Regions from separate parts of the Homo sapiens genome. Here region 1 is linked to region 2. The links come from fine-mapping of genetic effects on gene expression. A gene starts in region 2. The other region holds a variant in brackets. All regions are shown on one strand. Distances are from middle to middle. Region 1 overlaps SLC25A43 (solute carrier family 25 member 43). Region 2 holds the start of SLC25A5 (solute carrier family 25 member 5).

The links. PIP is the estimated chance that this variant, and not a neighbour inherited with it, causes the effect. A credible set is the group of variants that fine-mapping cannot tell apart.
Region 1: its variant is the best candidate, but not a certain one, in a credible set for the expression of SLC25A5 in nasal epithelium (TOPMed, PIP 0.53).

The regions. Positions count from the first base shown.
Region 1 is chrX:119,417,424-119,420,333 of GRCh38, forward strand. The region is part of intron 3 of SLC25A43 (solute carrier family 25 member 43); the gene reads left to right. Among named protein-coding and RNA genes, the nearest start is that of SLC25A43, 20 kb to the left of the region's middle. The variant T/C (reference allele first, on the strand shown) is at 1,236.
Region 2 is chrX:119,467,070-119,469,898 of GRCh38, forward strand. SLC25A5 (solute carrier family 25 member 5) reads left to right here and starts at 1,375. Exons shown (of 4, transcript NM_001152.5): 1 at 1,375-1,557; 2 at 2,592-2,829. The coding sequence starts at 1,447. It overlaps SLC25A5-AS1 (SLC25A5 antisense RNA 1), which reads right to left and starts at 2,051. Exons shown (of 1, transcript NR_028443.1): 1 at 1-2,051. RefSeq lists silencers at 1,055-1,434, 1,925-2,164.

The DNA of each region.
Region 1 (2,910 bases), 50 kb before region 2:
TCAAAAAAAAGAGAAAAGAAAAGAAAAAGGTTTCAGATGAAGTTCAATGACATCTAAATGGGACGGGTAAGGGTCCCAGTCTTCCCCATAAACCTTAGTTTTGCTTTCTCTTCCTGAGAGCTAGAACAGTGACCTCATCTGGGAGAATCCAGCCAACACCGCATTCTACACCATCTGCATTCTATACCCCTACCACAACAACCCACTATAAACTGGGGTAAGATACACTAGAAGTGGGTATTTGGGGGTAATCCTGATCATCTTTTTCCTCGTATGGGAGCCTTCCAAATAATGCATATATAGAGCATAAGAAGAAGTTTCAAATAGATGCAAAGTCATGATGGTTGTAAAAAAAAAAAAAAAATCCAAAGAGGTAATTGCACTGTTTTCACAAAATAGGATCAACATGTAATTATGAATAACAATATAAATGTCATCCAAAGATATAGGAAGTGAACTTTTAGGGTTTCAGTGAAAGTGTTATTTTGCAGGGGTTAATAAACATACTAATACTTTGTCCACCCTATGTTAAAAAAAAAATTCACCCCCAAGACAGAACTGCAGGCTGCTTTTAAATGCAAACATGGCATTGGGCTTCTCTGGCCATTAGATGTCACTGCAGTAAATGGAGAGTAGCTGAGCATCACCTGATTGGAGCCTGAAGTTCGGTGATCTCTGTCCAGTTAACAACTTCATAATCCCTGCTTGAAATCCATCTTTGGTTTGGAGAATAAGAGGCCTAGAAACCACAGGCTAATGCTAAACTTGTTGGTTTTGTTGTTACTGTTACTTGTCCTACAAAGCACACACTCCAAATTCACCAAGAAGAGAGGGCTTTAATAACAGTCTGTCCTCGCTGGAGCAGGCAGGGTTTGCCAGCAGAATAAGTAACGAGGGACCTTTGCAGGGCCACTGGGCTGCTCTGACCTGAGCACACTTAATGGCAACATTTGCATTCCATTGGCTTTCCCCATTGCACTGCCTGTCATGAAGCAAATCAATGGCAGGTGTCTGTTGGATAACGAGCTACACAGGGAATTTTTCTCGATCCCTGCACTGACTGGCCCCTTTGTCTGGATGTTTCTTTCTCTTAATATGCTTTTCTCTAGACACACACAGCCCATTTAATGGCACATCAGGTTGGAACTCTTTTGAACATAATGACAGTAATCAGAAGTCTTGTTTAACCAGCTGAGCCCTTCCTTCACCATGCTTACACTCATTTTATCCCTTTT[T/C]CCTTTTCTTGCCTTGGCTCCTGGCTGGCATGCTAGAGAATGGAGAGGTAAATAAATTATGCATGTGCATGTCTTGATAGAATGGCTTCTGGTGGGAAGGGGGGTGGGTCAGGCCTGTGCACACATGGAATGAGGTGCCCCCAACTTGGTGTGCTTTCACGGACCCCAACCACCCTGCCTGAAATCCCCTTCTCCACGCTTCAGTGCATCTTAGCTCAAGCCCTTCCAGGTATAGCCTGGCCTTTTTGTCTATCTCCCACACCTAGCCCAGGGCCTGGGCCAGAAGAGATGGCAGAACTTAGTGTATTGAGAGAACAAGTAGGAAGGGTAAAATATTGACAGAGATGAATTCATCTGATTAATCTGTGCACCCCGAATAAGAACCAGGGAGTCCTGAGAAAATGGCTCTCTGCACAGGTGCATGTGAAGAAGAGAGGGAGATAGGCTGGGGAATACTGCCCTGAAAATCCAGGGAGCAGCTGAGAATGTAGGAGCCTTGGAATCTGGCAGGCCTTCTGAAAGGATCAGGAGGGAGGTACCAGACACATGCTCGGTCCCCCCACAACTCTGCCTGACACCCTCCCCTATTGCCCATATTAGGTGTCTCCATTTCATCAAATATAAAACCAAGTGTGAGCCTGTTGCTTTATACCCCAGTGGACTTTGACCCCATCACAGCTCACAAGGTAAGCAGGATTGGGCCAGGTCAGCATTTGAACTGAAAGCACATAAGATGAAGGACAAAGGTGGTATCCGAGTGGTACAGCTGACTGAGCAGAATATACATGGTCAGTGAATAAACAGAGGCCCCAGCCTACTCAAATAGAGATGCTCGACACCTCGGGTTACCTTTGTTGAATTGGACACAGTCACTTCATTCATTCCCTCTCAGGGTGCTCATCCCCTCTTGTAGTTTTTCATGTTCATATCTACATCTTCAATCCTGACCTCCCTTCTGAGCCATGGTCCCACATTTCCCACAGCCTGCTCGACATCACTATTTGGCTATCATATCCCCACTGTCACCTCTAACTTAATGTGCATCAAGCTGACCTCTTCTTTTCCTAACACTGTTATTCCAGAGTTTTCCATTTCAATTCCATCATTGCCCCAGTGACTCAGGCTGGAAATCCACAACTTGTGTTTGACTCTTCCCCTTCCCCTCACCCGGTTAACCTTGAGCCCTGTTGCTTCTTCATTCCTAACATTCCCATGCTGGTCTTTCTTTTTGTCACTGCCTCTTGCCCTAATCTTGGACCTTATCAGCTCATACCTAGGCTATTACAGTAATCTCCTCATTGGTCTCCAGGATTAATTCTAAAAATGATCTTAAGCATTGAATATTAATATGTACTAGGCACTGTGCTAAGTGCTTTATGTTCATTATCTCATTTAATCCTTACAACAGCCCTACAAGGTGGGCACTGTTATTATTAAGTCCATTTTACAGATGAGAAAACTGAGGCACCGAAAGGTTTTGTAGCCTGCAAGTTCACCCATCCAGTAATTGAGCTGGGATATAAGCCCAGGGAGCTTGTCTCCAGAGTCAGTGCTCATTTCAATCCTCTCCAGCCCAGCCCATATGGGATTCTGTCAGATGAATCTTTCTCAGATCTGTCTGCGTTAGATCCTTTTTTTTTTTTTTTTTTCTTTTTGTGAGACAGGGTCTTGCTCT
Region 2 (2,829 bases):
GCAGATCTGGAGAAGATAGGAGAGGGCAGGAAAGGAAAGTGAAGGATATGAACACTATGTGTTCAGTGTGCAAAGGCCTGCTGGCATTTTGCCTATGGGAATTCTGAAGTCTGGGCACATAAGGTTCAGCTGCAGTTGCAGTTTTCAACAGTCGTCCTTATTTTTATAAACATTGTTATGATTATTCAGACACGGAACTTGTGATTACACTATTTGCTCCTGTTCTGAACTTGAGGGAGTCCACTTAAGCTAACAAGTAGGTTTTTGAGGACATGTGTGGCAAATGCTTACCCAGTGAAGGGATTAAGGGGCTCAGTAAGCACTTGTCCATTGGCACAATGGCTGCCAATCTAATTCTATTGATTCCTCTAAATGTTTCTGGAGTTCAGAAATCTATTCAATCCAAGGGCACTTTACCTGGGGTCCTGGGAGCCAAATGTTAACGTAGTTCTTAACCTTCCTAAGCCTCTTAACCTTCTGGGTACAACCTCTATATTTGTCTTCTGGCTAAAATCATTTCCCCACCCCCAGCCCAGTCCTTTGGACTCTCCCAGGCCAATTCCTGGCAAGATCTTTGTCGAACTGTATTTGCAAACCAGGGTCTGGGGCACGGTGGCAGTTCCTTCGTCTGCTGTTCCCTTAATTTCGTCTGGTTTCACTGGCTCCAGGACAGCACACGGTCTAGAGTGGGAAGAGTGAGGCATTCACCTTGGTGAAAAACAACTCAGTAATTAAGACAAATGATTTTTCATGTACTATTTTAAAAAAATCAGAAGCAATGCAAAAATCCATGATGAACAAATGATCAACATTTGAAATACAGACAGGATCCCAACCTGCACTTGCATGACCTTGTCTCGCTTGCCTCACCCTAAACCCAGCCTTGACACTCCAATTAAACTTTATTTACAAAACAAGGGGGCCGGCCAGTAGGATGTAGTTTGCCCATACGACTTTTTTAAAGTATCGCATTGACTACTGTTTATCTCGATGACTGAAGGGTTCTTTTGGCATCCCTGTAGCAAATGCGTCTCACCCTAGTCCTGGTCCTGCTCCAAGGGTTTTTGTCCAGGCACATCGTGACCTCACCCTTCCTCCCCTCTCCGAGGCCTCTCTCAGGGTCCAGCGTTCAAGTCCCGGGTGTTCTCTGGACCCGCCCCTTCCTCTCGCCGGGTCAGGTGCCGAGGGCGAGCACGGGCGGCGCGGAGAGCAGTCCCGGCCCGCCCTCCACGACTCCTCCTCCTGCGAGCTGGGCCACTCAGCGGCTCTGCCGCCCAGCGCGCCGGGGCCCAGACCCCGCCCCGGCCCCGCCTCCGACGCCTGCCGCTCCAGCTCCGGCTCCCCCTATATAAATCGGCCATTTGCTTCGCTCCGCCCCGCAGCGCCGGAGTCAAAGCCGGTTCCCGGCCCAGTCCCGTCCTGCAGCAGTCTGCCTCCTCTTTCAACATGACAGATGCCGCTGTGTCCTTCGCCAAGGACTTCCTGGCAGGTGGAGTGGCCGCAGCCATCTCCAAGACGGCGGTAGCGCCCATCGAGCGGGTCAAGCTGCTGCTGCAGGTACGTCCTGGGATCCAGGAGCCCAACCAGGAAGTGGGGGGAAGGGTCGCACAGAAGGCGGGCGCCCGAGGGGTGGCGGGGAGCGAACTCTAAAGACATGGCCAGGGAAGCGGCTTAGGAGAGGCCAGAGCGGGGCGCAGAGGCAGAACAGAAGTCAAACTGGTGGGAGGCGCCTTTAGTGACCTGAAGTAGTGAGTCTAGGAAGGGGCCGGGGGCAGAGGGCAGGACCAGGCTCTCGGCATCTCCGAGGCGGCGGACTCGGATGGAGCAGTTTCTGAGTGACGGCCTCCCCGGGCCTGGGCGTCAAGGGCGAAGGCCGAAAGCCGGCGTTAGAAAGAGGAACGCCAGTTCTTACCGAAGACCTCAAGGTCGCGGCAAGGAGATAACTGCCCGGGGGAGGCCATGCGCCCGGGTCCAGCGGCCTCCCAGCCCGCGGACGCGCTCAAACCTCGCCGGGCCGGAAGCCGGCGCCGGGAAGCGCGTGTGCCTTTTACGTCCGCCCCCGCGCAGCCGCGGCCGCTGCCGCCGCGTCTCCGCCTGCCTCCCTGCGCCGCGCGCTCTCCAGTGCCGGCTCTAGAGGGCGCTCCTGGGCTAGCGTGTAGGGCTGGCGGCGGCGGCGCTCGGGTCACCTCTGGGAGCGGAGTGGGGGCGGAGCGAGACGGAAGCAGCTCAGGAGACTTGAGGCGTAGGCTGCGGTCCCCAAGGTGACCGCGCCCTATGTGGGACTCGCCCTAATGCCTCTGAACCTGGGTTTGAGGTAATGACCTTTCTCCTAGGTCTGAAGGTCACGGGTCCGCTGGAGGATGCCCCCTCTCCACTCAGAGGGGTGGAGGCTTAATGCTACTGGTGCAGATCACCTCTTCCCCTGTGACAGCCTCAGAGGGTTGGGAGGGTCCAGCCAGTATGATATACGAAGACTAGATTTGAGAGAGGGGAGCCTACCTTAAAGGGCATTGATCGAGATGGCATAAGCTCTTCTCTTTCCCTTCCCCATGGTTATAACTGTCCCTGTTGGCTTCCTTCCTGTCTGTTAGGTGCAGCATGCCAGCAAGCAGATCACTGCAGATAAGCAATACAAAGGCATTATAGACTGCGTGGTCCGTATTCCCAAGGAGCAGGGAGTTCTGTCCTTCTGGCGCGGTAACCTGGCCAATGTCATCAGATACTTCCCCACCCAGGCTCTTAACTTCGCCTTCAAAGATAAATACAAGCAGATCTTCCTGGGTGGTGTGGACAAGAGAACCCAGTTTTGGCTCTACTTTGCAGGGAATC